Linked DNA regions of Homo sapiens: region 1 is linked to region 2. A link means that fine-mapping ties the variant in region 2 to the expression of a gene that starts in the linked region. Tissue or cell type: monocytes. Region 2 holds a variant in brackets; the other region holds the start of a gene. All regions are shown on one strand. Distances are between the middles of the regions.

The links. PIP is the estimated chance that this variant, and not a neighbour inherited with it, causes the effect. A credible set is the group of variants that fine-mapping cannot tell apart.
Region 1: ENTPD7 starts here. The variant in region 2 is the best candidate, but not a certain one, in a credible set for the expression of ENTPD7 in monocytes (Quach 2016, PIP 0.57).

The regions. Positions count from the first base shown.
Region 1 is chr10:99,655,568-99,663,748 of GRCh38, reverse strand. ENTPD7 (ectonucleoside triphosphate diphosphohydrolase 7) reads right to left here and starts at 4,240. Exons shown (of 13, transcript NM_020354.5): 1 at 4,161-4,240; 2 at 3,785-3,887; 3 at 2,121-2,303. The coding sequence starts at 3,792. It also overlaps a transcript of SLC25A28 not described here. RefSeq lists silencers at 4,012-4,231, 4,352-4,561.
Region 2 is chr10:99,623,099-99,631,279 of GRCh38, reverse strand. It overlaps LOC105378450 (a long non-coding RNA gene), which reads right to left and starts at 6,498. Exons shown (of 5, transcript XR_007062264.1): 1 at 6,261-6,498. It also overlaps a transcript of SLC25A28 not described here. The variant T/C (reference allele first, on the strand shown) is at 4,570.

The DNA.
Region 1 (8,181 bases), 32 kb before region 2:
TGACCCATGCCAGTAATCCCAGCACTTTGGGAGGCCGAGGCAGGAGGATAGGTTGAGCTCAGCAGTTTGAGACCAGCTTGAGCAACACTGCGAGACCTCACTTCTACTAAAAATCAAAAAAATTAGCCAGGTATGATGGCATATGCCTGTAGTCCCAGTTACTCGGGAGGCTGAGGCAGGAAGATAGCTTGAGCCCAGGAGATTGAGGCTGCAGCGGGCTATGATTGCACCATTGCACTCCAACCTGGGAGATGCGCGAGATAGTCTCAAAAAAAAAAAAAAACAAATAAAATCATGTAGAAAACAACATCAAAGCACATCACAATCAAATTGCTTAAAACCAGTGATAAACAGAAAATTCTAAAAGTATTCAGAGGAAAAAGATACATTCTATACAGAGAGAACAAAGATTAAAAGGACAGCAGACATCTCAGAAAGAATGCAAGCCAAAAGACAGTGAAGCATCATCTTTAAAGTAATGAAAGGAAAAAAAATGATCAACCTAGAGTTCTATACCCAATGAACATTTCTTTCAAAAGGAAAGCAAAATAGGGACTTTTTCAGTCATATAAAAGTTGAAAGAATTTATCACCGCATACTTGCTCTACTAGAAATGCTAGAGAATGTTCTTGAGGTAAAAGCAAATATGGAAATATGGATCCAGATGGAAATATGGATCTACACAAAGGAATGAAGCAGACCAGAAATGGTAAATATAGACAAAAGTGACTCCATCTTGGATGTTAATCTGCCACATTGACTTCTGACTAGCCTCAGTCCCGTAAATGCCTCTTGATTCCTGCTTTATTTACTACTGTAAGAACATGTCAACCTTGGTGTTGGCACACAAATGACAGGATATGGCACATGCAGCATTCTTACCTGTTCTGGAGGGCTGTCTTTAATTGTCTTGCACAGGGTGCATATACCATCTCCCTGTACTATATAAGCCCTGGGTCTGGGGAGTAACAGTATGGAGATCTATCTGTCTTGCAGCTACCCAGGGCCACGCTTCTGTCTGCAAATTCCCTCAATAAATCAATGAATACCAACGAACAATTTGCCTGCCTCCTCCTTTGGTTTCTCCGTCCCTTCAGCATTCAAGGGTCACTTTGCTTATATGACCCTTTCAGGCAACAATATGGTTAAATACATAAGCCTTTTTTTCTTATATTGAAAATCTCTTCAAAAGACAATTGACTAACACAAAAATAATAACAATATATTGTGGAGCTTATAACATGTAGAAATAAAATACATGACAGTAGCAGAAAGACCAAGGGGAAGGGAGGAATGAAAGTATACTGTTGTTAGGTTCTTGTTCTAGATGTGAAGAGGAGTAATATTACTTGAAGGAAGATTGTGATAATTAAAGATGACACTATAAACTTTAAAGTAACCACTAAAAAAAGAAGAAGTTATATCTAATAAGCCAACATGAGAGATAAAATGGAAACATAAAAACTGTGCTCAACTGAAAAGAAGAGGGAAAAAGAGGAAAAAGAACAAGAACAAATGTGACAAATGAAAAACACATAGCAAGATTAAAACTAAACATACTAAATAATCAGATTAAATATAAATGGCCCGAACACCCCAATTAACTGCAGAGATAGTCAGATTGGATAAAAAAACAAGACCCAACCAAACACTGACTACAAGAAGCCCACTTATATAAAGACACCAATAGGCTAAAACTAAAACTATAGAAGAAATATCTGTCATGCTAATGTTAATCAAAAGAAAGTTGGAGTAGCTATATTAATACCAGACTAGTAGATTTCAGAGCAAAGTATATAATCAAGGATAAAGAAAATCATTTAATAATGATAAAGGGGTCCATTCATAAAGGTATAATACAGTCCTAAACATTTATACACACAATAAGTTTCAGCCCACCAAAACAAGAAAACACAAAGATGCCTTTCATGCAGTATCAGTATTCCTGTACCAAACTGCATATTGCCAAAATAGGGCTTAAAATCTTCTTTATGTAATAAATGGCATGCAATTTTACTAATAAAAGTACAGTATCACCCAAAAGGGTCAAAGTCAGTAGTGTGTTAAACAGCTTATGAAAATATTTATGACTTGAGTGCCAAAATCTAAAGCTGACTCACCTTTCGTATTGCCTATCTCGTGGTAATGAAGCACTCCAATGTCGAAAGTCTATGATTAACATAAGTAAAAGGAGACAGGATATGAAGAAGAGTCCCAGGAATGCCACCCGCTGACGGAGAAATGGACTCACTGTGGGCACAGTGAAGTACCAGGAGGCTGGGCAGAGGTAGGAAAAACTGATCCTGAAATTAGACAAACATTAGTAAGTCTGAAACATTTCTACAACTGAGTGCTTAAATATCGTTTTAAAATTGGATAAAACCCTCCTAATAAAGGCAAAAATCCATGCCAACAGAAGTCTAAATGTTCTTGTCATCTCTAATTTTAGAAGAAGCTCATGGTGCTTCTACTATATATATCAGAAAAGCCTTATCTGCCCTTTTTCCAAACTGCACTTTGAGTGCAATTCAAAGACTTAATCTCATGTTAGTGAAAAGATCACCAGTCTCCCTGGGCAACCTCATAACATTGGAGAATCAGAGCAACTACAGTATTCCCAACCAAGAATTCTGTCAAGAAACAGGATGGTCAGAAAATTTATTTAACTGATTTTAAAAATGTTTTACCAGATTATACAAGCACATAGTAAAAGACAAATCAGTTTAAAAGGATATATTGTATAGTGAAAAGTGATTCTTGCCCTGACCCCACAATCTCTCAGAGGCAAACATTACTACCCAGTTGCTGTGTAATTTTTTTTTTTTTTGAGATGGAGTCTTGCTCTGTTGCCCAGGCTGGAGTGTAGTAGCGCAATCTCAGCTCACTGCAACCTCCACCTCCTGGGTTCAAGCGATTCTTCTCCCTCAGCCTCCCCAGTAGCTGGGATTACAGGTGACTGCCACCACACCCGGCTAATTTTCGTATTTTTAGTAGAGACCGGGTTTCTACTTGGCCAGGCTGGTCCTGAACTCCTGACCTCAGGTGATCTGCCTGCCTTGGCCTCCCAAAGTGCTGGGATTACAGGCGTGAGCTACTGCACCTGGCCGTTGCTGTGTATCTTTCCAGGGATATTCTACGGATACACAAGCATAAATATACACCAATATATTTACAGTAATATATCTCTGTGTGTGTGTGTGTGTGTGTGTGTGTGTGTGTGTGCGTATCCATTCCCTCGGTTTTACACAAATGGTAGTCCACCATACCTGCTGTTCTGCATCTTTCCCCCACTTTATTTTATAACTTTCCCTTATTGGTGCATGTAGATCCACATTAATATTTTTTAAAAGCTTCAGGTTATTATAATGTATGGATAAGTGTATTCATCTGTGAAGTTCACTTTGTATATTGATTCAAAAGGACCTCGGTCTGTCTGCTTTTAAAGTTCACTGCAAACAAAAAACAAAAAAACTTCTTTGTTTAACCTCCTCAAGTGGCACCTAGCCTTGCTCAGATGCGAATCTGAATCAATGTTACAACCTTGCACTTTACAGAGCTGAGCAAGCCGACTCACTCTACCACTCCTGGTCTATGGGCTAGAAACTATTATTTATCAGCCCTCGAAATAATACAACTTTGATCGTCTCTGCATCCAACTAACCAGAATACAAAGTCCAAGTGCAGCTCCAGGGCAAACCTCACTTGGGACAGCCTCCCAGGGCCCCCCAACCTGCCTGCCATCCTCTGCCGTGCTCCCAGCCGGAGGGAAAGTGTGCAGCCTTACCTAGCCATGGGTTCCCTTCGGTGGTCTCAACGCCTGTCACCTTCTTTTTCTTTTGCCCTGAGAAGGTGGCCTCCTTGTCCCAGGCATCTCCTACGTCTGCAGCCTAGAAAGATTTGATTTCAGGCTTCTGTCCGACTGAGCCCACGAGACAAACCTGCACGGGAATTCCACGGCTCCCACCTCCTCCCCAGGCTCCCGCTCCGTCTGCTCTGGTTCCTCAGGCCCAGGGGACCCTACCCGGGCATCCTGGGAGCGGGGCGTTCTCGTGGGCCAGCTCTGTCCTCTAGGAACCGGTCGTCCCCAGGTGGCGGGGTGTGGGTCCCGCTTCCTCTCCCCGTCCCTCCGGGTCCCACAGCCCTCTCGCGCCCACACTCACGGGATCAAGCGGCCCGCCGGTTCCTTCGGCACCTCTCGGTTCAGTCCCGAGCTGCTCCCCGCGGCCCCTTGCCCAGCCGGAAGGAGGGCCCGGCCGGCGGCGGCGCCACGTCCCCAAGGAAACCGCAGGGAGCCAATGACTGACAGAAGACTCACGGAGGGGCCGGCTCTCCACGAGCCGAACCGGGGGCGAACCAGCTCGGTCAGCAGCACGTCCGTCCGCCAGGGTGGCCAATCCCCTAGAGCGCTCGGCCTCTGATGCCCGCCCCGGGACTTTGAGCCGCGCCCAATCGGAAAGGCGTCGTACCGAGGCTCCGCCTGCAGGGCCCGCGGAGAGCTCACAGGTGAGTGGCGCTGGGCGGCCCTGTGCCCGCTTCCCTCCCTGGGGCGCGAACTCTCGGCTGGTTGCTTTCTCCACGGCCGCTCCTGGGACAGAGTAGCTCCGGTAGGTGGGTTCAGGGTGTTCGCGACCGAAGCGCATCCCTTGCCCATAACCTATTGTTGGTTTTGTGCCCACTGACCCTCCCTACCAGAATGGCAGTTCTCTCACCTTAAACCTTCCCTATCACCTCCCAAACTGATGCCCCGACCTCACTGTCTTGCCCCGTGAGAAAACAGAAATCGAAGACAATGACGTTTACACCAAAGTGCTTATGTCCATTCATTCATTCATTGAATGTCTGCTTATGCCAGTCATCATGAATTTCTGTGTCGCCGCCCTCCTTGACCTTACAGTAACACAAAGGAAACGACGCGCGCGCGTGGGTGTGTGTGTGTTTCTTTCTTGCTTACACCAGCCGTTATCTCATTTCCAGGAGGACGGCATAAAGTCCAAGCTCTTTCCAACGTGGCACATCCATTGCGCCCCACGATCCGCCCTACCGCCGTCCTCTGCCGCTACTTGCCTTCCTTACCACGCTCCAGCAACGCGTCCTGTTTTGCTCATTCTGCCCCTCCACCTGCCTTGAATAACCGTCCCAGCCTCTTAGCCAAATCACCTCCTACTCATCCCTTACCACCCATCTTAAGGGTCGCCTTCCCCTAAAAGCCCTACTTGACCTACTACACCTTTTTTATACATGCCTATTGTTTCACTTAGCACGTTGAATTACTATTATACGTATATGTCTGTCTGTCTGTCCCACTAGACAGAATATCCTTGAAGGCAGGGACTATTTGCTTCCACATATTCCCAATACTGGCCACTGCCTGGCAGATAAAACACAACTAATGTATAATTAATAAGCAAATGAATGAATGGGGGGGATCGGGGAGGAAGACCACCCAAATGCTTTATTTATTCAAAGCTTACTATGACAAGGGAGTCAGTCACCATCACTTGCATTTGGCCGACTCAAAGCCTGTCAGGACATTAGGAAAACTACTTACTTACTTAATTACCTACAGGGTCTCACTCTGTTGTCATCCAGGCTGGAGTGCAGTGGTGCGATCGTGGTTCACTGCAGCCTCGACCTCCTGAGCAAGCGATCCTCCCACCTCAACCTCCTGAGTAGCTGGCTCTACAGGCACGTGCCACCATGCCCAGCTTATTTTTTTTTAATTCTTTGTAGAGATGGAGTCTCACTATGTTGTCCAGGCTGGTCTTGAACTCCTGGGCTCAAGCAGTCTTCCTGTCTCAGCCTCCCAAAGTGCTGGGATTACAGGGATGAGCAGCTGCACCTGGCCAGGAAAGCTTAGTAGTGAACAAAAAGGGAAGGTTTCATGTATACTCTGACTTGAGGGTATTAGCATGGGAAAGCTGGAGGTGGGCTAACAAAAGTAGTGTCTCTTAGGTGATTGGTTTGGGGTAGGTAGCATATTTGGCTGTCTTTAGTGGGTTCTGAGTTGAAGAAAGGAGGCGGCAAAAAACAGGGAAACTGAGTCATTGACCAAGTCCTGATTATTCTCGGCTGGTTGCTGTAGAGGTTGTGGGTCAGAGTTCTAATTGTCATATAAGATCTAGCCATTGTCCAGTTTCTATATTCAGTTCTCATGACTATTGTTTTTTTGGCTCCACTACTCTCCTAACCTTGTTGAACTTCCTAATTTGCCTTTCTTCTTCAATTCTCAGTTCTCAGTTTTTTTTTCTCTGTCCCTCAATCCCCACTCTGCTTCAAGTGTTATATTTTATCTGGACCCCCAGAAACCACATTGAATAGAATAGTTGCATAAAGTTGGGATTAACCACAACATTATACAGATACCAGTTATTTTTATTATTTCAGAACCCAGTTCAGTTCCTAGAACAAAATAGATATGGAAAGAACTAAAATAATGTTTTGGAGTAATTTTTAAAAATTTCTTGAATTTACCTTCTGTGAGTTCTAAGTCTAATCTCTATACATATATATTTCAAACTTTAGTGTTCCACAAAATAGGTGTTTTTGAGTGGAAGTATAATTCCTATTTTTAAAATAGTACTTAATTCCTATGGTTTATGAACTATATTAACTTATAATTCAAAAGTTCATTGAAACATCCTCTAATTTACATTTCATAACTACATCATAAAACAGAAAAGACCTACATTTTAATCCCAACATTTTTTCATTATATTTTCTTTGTAAAACTTTCTTTGTCAGTCTGGTTTGGACAATACTTCCTTCAATAAATCCATATGCCCTCAAGCATTTGTCAAGCATAATTCTTTACAAAAACCAGCAATGCTTATCTGGTTAACAGCTCATAGGGCTGAGTTCCGAGGTTTCCAGTCAGCAGGGCAAATTAAAAAGCACTGAGAGTATTTCTCTATTTCATTTGCTGTAACTCAACATGTTGCAACAAGTTATAGAAACCTATGTTTCAAAACAGGTTTTTAACTGCTCTTTAAAGGCTTGCCTTACAATTACATTTGCAATTTTTCTCCAGATGTGCTTGATGCCCAGCCCTGAGCAAAATCAGCCCAACAGGTCCCATATTAGGTGCTAGTTGTTTGCTTTGCTTCATTTCCCCTTGTGGATTCTCCTTCCCTCCACACTCCATCCCACCCTACCCTCTAAAGGAATTTGGAGGAGTGTCATGTGGTCTACACTCTCCCTTCCAAGTTTACCCATCTCTCTTCACCTGTCTTTCAGGCACCCCATTGTCCCAAATAAACTCATTATCTCTCCACTCTCATCATATCCACCCAAACCTCCTCCATCCATATTCTCCATCTTGACAAAATACCCTGTGATTCACCAGAGCAGGAACCTGTATGGGAGTCATCCTAGAATATCTTCCTTCTAACTTTCTTTCTCCCTTTCCATCCAATGAGTCACTAGGGGTGCTTAATTCAACTGCCTAAAATCCTCTCCAAGATCTTCTAATGAAGCCTTCCAACTGGTGGCCCTGCCCCCAGACCCATGCCCCTCCTGAGTGCCCCTTGATTCTGTTACCATTGGGAAACCTCATCATGCTACTTCCTGATCTAAAATCCTTCACTAGTTCCTTATTTTTTTTTAGCCCATCTTGTGGTCCCATAGTAGTTTCTTATTCTGACGAGATATAGTCCAAATTCCTAAGCATGGTGTGGCAGATCCCACTGACAGCCTATTCCAGAAGTACCTTCTTCCAGAAGTTCCTTATTATTTTTTTAGCCCATCCTGTGATCCCATAGTAGTTTCTTATTCCAATGAGATATGGTCCAAATTCCTTAGCATGGCGTGGGAGATCCCGCTGATAGCCTATTCTAGAAGTAGGCTCTCTCTTCTACCTTGTTAGCTTGACAAGTAACCACACTGAATATGCTTGGCCATGTGCTTGAAGGGTGCTAGGCTCCAACCTCAGTCCCAGGAGATAAATTGTGATTGTCTAAGTCAATCATGGTGGGCCCATACCCTCACAAAATATTGGTTTAAATGGGCATATGGTACAATTTTAGCTAATAATATGAAAGGGAAGTCAGCTGTTGAGAAGAATGCCCAGGGAGGAGGGAAGACATTTCTAGGGAAAGTTTTCTTCATCTTAAAAAGAGATACATTCATACCAAAATTATTGAAAGAAAAAAACGATACAGGTATAAGTCAATGAAAACTTTTCAT
Region 2 (8,181 bases):
TCTTTTTTCACAGAAACCAGTGACCTTTTCAAAATGCAAAATTGACCATGTTGCCCAACTTCAACTTAGAATTCCACAATGGAATCCCATTGTTCTTAAAATATAAACCAATCCCTTGAAACATGACTTTCAAAGCCTCTCAAGGACTGCTCCTTACTTACTTCCTAGGACTCAGACATGCTTCATCTGGCCTCACAAACACTGTTCTTGTCCTGTGACCACAGGACTCCTGCTATTATGTTTTCTTTGTCCAGAAAATTACTCCTTCCCTTACTCCTTCCACTACCTCCCTTACTCCTTCCACTATCCCTCCATCTGATGTAACCTAATTAACTCTTCTTATCTTTAAAATATTACTTCAAATGTCATTTCCCTTGTGCGACATAACCCCCTAGGCTAAGTTAGGTCCCCTTAACATATGATTTTAGTATATCATGTGCCTTTCCTTCATCTCACACATCCCAGTTGTAATTTTACATTCATGAATCTTTGGTTAATGCCTGTCTTCCCCAGAAGACTTTAAGCTCCACCAGAGAAGAGACCATGCGTGGATTTATGCATCTTTTATCCCTAGGACTTCGTTTAAGGCCTGGCACATATTGAGAGAATAAATGAATTGGCTAGCACTATTAAGCTTTGCTGCCCCCTGCTGAGTCATGGCTTTTAGCCTATTAAACTAGCACCAATTGGATGTTCAGAACTAGTGTGGTGATATCATAGCAATATTTTTCAAAATGTGGTCCAGGGACCACCTGTGTCAGAATGACCTGCTTATAAAATGCAGATTCTCATGCCTCACTCTGAAGATGATTTTTAGGCCTATGTTAGGGTCAAAAAGTTTGCATGGGCCAGGCATGGTGGCTCATGCCTGTAATCCCAGCACTTTGGGAGGCTTAGGTGGGTGGATCACTTGAGGTCAGGAGTTCGAGACCAGCCTCGCCAACGTGGTGAAACCCCGCGTCTACCAAAAATATTTTTAAAAAATTTGCCGGGGGTGGTGGTGCGCATCGTTAATCCCAGCTACTCAGGAGGCAGAGGCAGGAGAATTGCTTGAACCCAGGAGGCAGAGTTTGAGTGAGCTGAGATCTGTACCACCGCACTCCAGCCAGGGGTATAGAATGGGACTCCGTCTCAAAGAGAAAAGAAAAAGTTTGCATCCAAGCTCCCCTGGATGATTTGAGAGCCACTGGTATGAAAGGAAGGAAAGAAAGGAAAGAAGTGGAAGAAACTGCTTTACAGTCTCACTACCCTTTTTTTCCCTCTTCTTTTTTGAGATGGGGGTTTCCCTATGGTGCCCAGGCTGGTCTTGAACTCCTAGGCTCAAGCGATCCACCCACCTTGGCCTCCCAAAGGGTTGGGATTACAGGCGTGAGCCACTGTGCCGGGCCAAATTAACCATTTTAAAGTGGACTATTCAGTGGCATTTAGTACATTCACAATGTTGTACAACCACTACATCTACCTAGTTCTGACTCATTTCATCACCCTGATAGGAAACCCCATCCCCATTAAGCAGTTACTCTCATTCTCCCCTGCCTGCTGCATCTGGTAACCACCAATCTGTGTTCTGTCTCTATAGAGCTATCTATTCTGGATATTTCATATAAGTGGAATAATATGTGACCTTTTGCATTTGGCTTCTTTCAAGATTCATTCACATTATAGCATGTATCAGTTCTTTGTTTCTTTCTATGGTTGAATTATATTCATTGCATGTATACACAATCTATTTATCCATTATTTGTCTGATGGACATTTGGACTGTTTCCACCTTTTGCCTAGTGTGAAAAGTGCTGCTGTGAACATGCACGTACTTGCTTGAGTACCTGTGTTCCATTCTTTTGGAAATTGTCTTAGTCTTGTGTTGCTATAAAGGAATACCTGAGGTTGGGTAATTTATAAAGAAAAGAGGTTTTTTGGCTCATAGTTGTGCAGGTTATACAAGAAGCAGGGAACCAGCATCTCCCCAGCTTCTGAGGAGGGCCTCAGGCTGCTTCTGCAGAGATAATATGACAAGAGATGAGGCAAGGGGCATGGGGCAGGAGGTGCCAGGCTCTTTTTAACAACCAACTCTCACTGAAACTAATAGAATGAGAATTCACTCACCTGTCCCCCACAGAGGGCATTAATCTATTCATGAGGGATCTATTCCCATGACTCAAATACCTCCCAGTAGGCCCACCTGGAACACTGGAGATCAAATTTCATCATGAGATTTGGAGGGGACAGACATCCAAATTATAGCAGTCATATACCTAGGAGTGGAATTGCTGGGTCATATAGTAATTCTATGTTTAACTTTTTGAGGAACTGCCAAACTGTTTTCCATAGTGGCTGAATGATTTTACATTCTCACCAGCAATGTATGAGGGTTCCAATTTCCTCAGTGGTTGTTATTTTCTTGCTAATGGTTGTTATTTTCAACAATGATTGTGGTGGGTTTTTTTGTTTTGTTTTTGAGTCAGAATTTTGCTCTTTTTGCCCAGGCTAGAGTGCAATGGCGTGATCTCAGCTCACTGCAACCTCTGCCTCCCGGGTTCAAACGATTCTTCTGCCTCAGCCTCCTGAGTAGCTGGGATTATAGGCATGTGCCACCACACCCGGCTAATTAATTTTTAGTAGGGACAGGGTTTCTCCATGTTGGCCAGGCTGGTCTTGAACTCCTGACCTCAGGTGATCCACCCACCTTAGCCTCCCAAAGTGCTGGGATTGTAGGCGTGAGCCACTGCAACCGCCCAATGATTGTGTTTTTTCTTATAGCCATCTGCATAGGTATGAAGTGGCATAGCCAATAATCTTTTGACAAAGGAAAATGAAAACGTTTTTACTGCAAGCCTGAATAAACATTCAAGAAAATATAAAAGACAAATTTGTTTTTGACATATTTTCCTTTTACTTGATGGCATAATGTTGATCTGTGAAAACATGTAAACATGTACTTTCCCCATACTTCTCCTAGAAGTAATGCAAAATATAAAATTGAAACTCAAGTCGAGACATGAGTAAATGAGGAGTATTACTCAGCTTTTTCTTGTTTCTGACCAGAGAGGGATCATTGCCCTTTATTACTTCCCAGCATAAAAATAAAAATTGTAAGTCTTACATATCATAGTCCCAAGAGAGATAGGCCACAAACCTTGCCATAAATGTGCCACTTAAATGAAATAAGGCTCTCTCACCTTTAATATTTAATTATGCTCTCTTTACTTTGCTCTCAGGAGAATCTCCCTCCAGAAGCAATGTATTCTTTGATAATAGTCAGAGATTGGTATCGGTGATGTAAATAAAAAACTCACTGCTCTGTTCTCACTTATTTGTGGGATCAAAAATCAAAACAATTGAACTCATGGACATAGAGAGTAGAAGGATGGTTACCAGAGGCTGGGAAGGGTGGCGGGAACTTGCGGGAGGTGGGTAAGAATTGTTAATAGGTCCAAAAAAGAATTGAAAGAATGAATAAGACCTACTGTTTGATAGCAAAATAGGGTGACTATAGTTAATAATAACTTAATTGTACATTTTAAAATAACTTAAAAGTGGGCAGGGTACGGTAGCTCATGCCTGTAATCCCATCACTTTGGGAGGCTGAAGTGGGAGATCACTTGAGCTCAGGAGTTTGAGACTAGTCTGGGCAACATAATGAGACCTTGTCTCTACTAAAATTCAAAAAAATTAGCCGGATGTATTAGTGCTTAACTATAGTCCCAGCTACTTGGGGGACAGAAGCAGGAGGATCGCTTGAGCCAGGGGGGTTGAAGCTGCAGTGAGCCATGATCACGCTACTGCACTCTAGCCTGGGTGACGGAGCAGTATCTTGTCTCAAAAAAAAAAAAAACAAGATGAATAAATAAACAAATACATAAATAAAGAGTGTAATTGGATTGTTTATAGCTCAAAGGATAAATGCTTGAGGGGATGGATACCCCATTCTCCATGATGTGATTATTTCACATTGCAGGCCTATATTAAAACATCTCAGATACCCTATAAATATACACCTACTATGTATCCAAAAAAAGACTTTTTTTTTATTTTTATTTTGAGATTGTCTCGGTCTGTCGCCTAGGCTGGAGTGCGGTGGCATGATCTTGGCTCACTGCAACCTCTGCCTCCCTGGTTCAAGCCATTCTCATGCCTCAGCCTCCCAAGTAGCTGGGATTACAGGCATGCACCACCATGCCCGGCTAATTTTTGCATTTTTAGTACAGACAGTGTTTCACTATGTTGGCCAGGCTGGTCTCGAACTCCTGGCCTTAAGTGATCTGCCTGCTGTGGCCTCCCAAAGTGCTGGGAGGTGTGAGCCACCATATCTGGCCATAAAATTAATTATTTTTTTAAAAAAATACAAAGGGCAGGGTTAAAGAATGAAAGTGACTCATCAGACAGACAAAAGTGGAATAAGGAATCTGGGGAAGAAGGACTAACGGTGGGACTGAAAACTGCCCTCTACTTATATTTTCCTCAATAAATGAGAATTACAAATTAAAAAAAAAAAAACACTGCTCCACTGTACCATATTTATGTACACAGAATATCCCACATGGGCTGAAATTTCCATTCTTAAAGCCA[T/C]GTTTTGCCCTTAACAGGAATATATGTAAGTCAGGGAAAGACATGAAGTCTACTGTTATATCTTGATTGAAGGCTTTGCCAGCACAAGGATTGTTTGACAACCTGGGTGTTTTTATGCACCCAGCGAATAAATGATAATAAGATGAGAAGTGAGTCAGGTCACACTTTTCTTTTGTAAGATAAAAGGACAGATTGAGAAAGGGGAGAAAGGAAAGAAGAATTGTTTCAACGGCTTTTTCAGGAAGAGGAATTTTAGGAAAGAATTAATCCAGATGAGGAGTAGCAAATTAATTCCCTTGAAACAATGTTTCCTAAATAACCCTTGGAAAGTCTTCCTGTACACAGTCTCCAGTTTGAAAACTAATGAGATAAATAATGATATCTCCTGATCCTTTCAGTCCTCACTGCTTACCCCATCTCTGAATTCCTGTAGCTCTTATGTTCTGTTTCTTCACCATTTAGGAATCAGTTTCTTTTTAAGTGGCTGTAAGGTTAGCAGTCTTATTTTCATGTGTGGCTGCTGGAATCAATCTCATTTTATACTACACTCATATCACATGCCCAGGTATGATGGCAGTTCAGAGAAGGGGGTAGTGTAAGCCGGACGCAGCAGTAGGACCTGTTTTGAACCTTCAATAATGAGAAATTTGATAAGAACAAAGGGGGAAATGCATTCTAAGGAAGAGCAGCTTCTCTAGGATATAAATTCACCTGCTGTAACAAAGATTCCCATTAACAGCAATTGCTTAACAAGCTTTCTCATGTCTGAGCACAAGTGGTCTGAGGTGATAGGATGCCTCATGGTGTTAAGGACACAGGTTTCTTCTAACTTTTGCTCTGCCACCAGCTAAAGTACAGGCCTTGTCCTCATGGCCAAAAATAATTATCTTCTGGGTCTGTGTTCTGACGAGAAGGGAGAAAATGAGCAAGAGGAGAACATATCCTTTTCTTTTAAAGGTACAACCCAGGTGTTTCAAACATCACTTTCCCTCACATCCCACTAACTAGAACTTAGTCACACCTCCAATGTTGATTGCCAGGGAAGCTGGGGAAAAATATATGGGCTTTAGCTGGGAAGCCACATGCCCAAATTGAAACTTGAGGTTTCTATTACTAAAGAAAAAAAATGAGTGGTCTCATAGAGAGATGTAGAAAATTACAAGACAGACGGGAGAATGTGAAAAAACAATTGTACTGGGAATGAGAGGTGAAGCCAGCTGGGCTTCTGGGTCAGGTGGGGACTTGGAGAACTTTTCTGTCTAGCTAGAGGATTGTAAACACAACAATCTGCGCTCTGTGTCTAGCTAAAGGATTGTAAACACACCAATCAGCACTCTGTAAAATGGACCAATCAATGCTCTGTAAAATGGACCAATCAGCAGGATGTGGGGGAACAGGGCCAAATAAGGGAATAAAAGCTGGCCACCCTAGCCAGCAGCAGCAACCTGCTCAGGTCCCCTTCCATGCTGTGGAAGCTTTGTTCTTTCACTCTTCAGAATAAATCTTGCTGGTGCTCACTCTTTGGGTCGGCAATATCTTTATGAGCTATAACACCCACTGCAAAGGTCTGCGGCTTCAATCATGAAGTCAGCGAGACCACGAACCCACTGGAAGGAAGAAACTCTGGATACATCTGAACATCTGAAGGAACAAACTCCAGACACGCCATCTTTAAGAACTGTAACACTCACCGCGAGTGTCCGCGGCTTCATTCTTGAAGTCAGCAAGACCAAGAATCCACCAGAAGGAATAAATTCCAGACACTGGAATACAAGAAAACATGACTATAGTACCTGAGGAGTTGCAGGTGCAGGAAACTGCTGAGGGTTTGTGAAGAATATCACCAATAAAGTTCCTTGCCTACTTTTTTTTCTTTGAGATAGGGTCTCACTCTATCACCCAGACTGGAGTGCAGTGGCCCAATCTTGGCTCACTGCAACCTCTGCATCCCGGGTTCAAGTGATTCTCCCACCTCAGCCTCCTGAGTAGCTGGGATTACAGGCACACGCCACCACGCCTGGCTAATTTTTGTATTTTTAGTAGAGACAGGGTTTCACCATGTTGGCCAGGCTGATCTCAAACTCCTGACCTCAAGTGATCTACCTGCCTCGGTCTCCCAAAGTGCTGGGATTACAAGCATGAGCCACCGTGCCTGGCCTGCTTACTTTTATAATTTTTTAGGCAGGTTTAGTGCTGGTGAGATGTACGACAGTGTGTATGGGTTTGTGTGCAGGTTAGGTGCTTACTATTCAAAGTGTGGTCCAAGGTCTAGCAGCATCAGCATCACTTGAGAGCTTGTCAAAAATGCAGAATCTAGGTAGGCGTGGTGGCTCACACCTGTAATCTCAGCACTTTGGGAAGCTGAGACAAGAGGATTGCTTGAGCCTAGGAGTTCTAAGACCATTTTGGGCAAGATAGCAAGACCCTGTCTCTACAAAAGAAAGAGAGAGAGAGAAAGAAAAAGAAAGAGAGAAAAAAGAAAGAAGAAAGAAAAAGAAAGAAAGAAACAAAGAAAGAAGGAAGGAAGAAAAAAAGGAAGGAAGGAGAAAGGAAGAAAGAAAGAAAAAGAGAAGACAGGAAGGAAGGAAAAAAGGAAGGAAGGAGAAAGGAAGAAAGAAAGAGAAGAAAGGAAGGAAGAAAGAGAAGGAAGGAAGGGAGGGAGGAGGGAGGGAGAGAGGGAAGGAAGAATCTTAGGCCCCAACCAGACCTACAGAACTGCAGTCTGCATTTTAACAAATTCTTCAGGTAACATCATTTATCATCACAGAAGTACTGGGCTAGTTTATGCTATGGTGTGGAATAATCCTAAAAGCTCTGTGTCTTGAAACAACTAAGATTTATTTCTCACTGATGCTGAAGTCTGTCTGGGAGCAAGCAGGTAACAAGTAGGGAACTCTGCTTCATGTCATTCTCACCAGGGCCCCAGGCTGACAGAGTCTCCACCATTTGAACAATCACTAGTCATGTGGCAGAGGAGGAAATGTGTGACTCTTGTGCTTCCCTCGTATTTCACTGGCCAAAGCAAATCCCAGGGCCATGCCTATCTTCAAGGAGGTGGAAAAAACATCCTACTGTGTACCTGGAAGGAGGAGAATCAAAATACTGCTGAAGCTAGGGGATCCTCGAGGCAGGCAGGCCTTTCAAGGGGTTATGACAATACAGATGTAATCAGATTCAGGGAAAGTATATCAATACGAAGGAAAAGGAGAGCATAAACAGAAGAAACAGTTCAGAATGATGATGATTCTGAATGGGCAGTCAAGGAAGACTCCAGCTTTAGAGTCTCATCTATTGGGCAAATAATGAAGACTTTCATGGAAAACGAACATTTTGGAGGAATGGGTTGGGGTGGGGAGTGGAAAGGCTGAGCTTGGAATGGACACGCTGAGTCAGAAATCAAGGTGGATATTCACCCCTTGTTTATCTTTCCAACTTCGTGTTGTATTCCCTCCCCACTCACTCACCATGCTCCAGCCACACTGGCCTTCTTTCTGTTCCTCATGCACCAACCTTGTTCTCACCTTAGGGTTGTCGTACCTACTGTTCCTTCTGCTGGCATGCCCTTCTCCAAGTCTGTCATGACTGGCTCCTGCCTATCATTCAGAACTCACC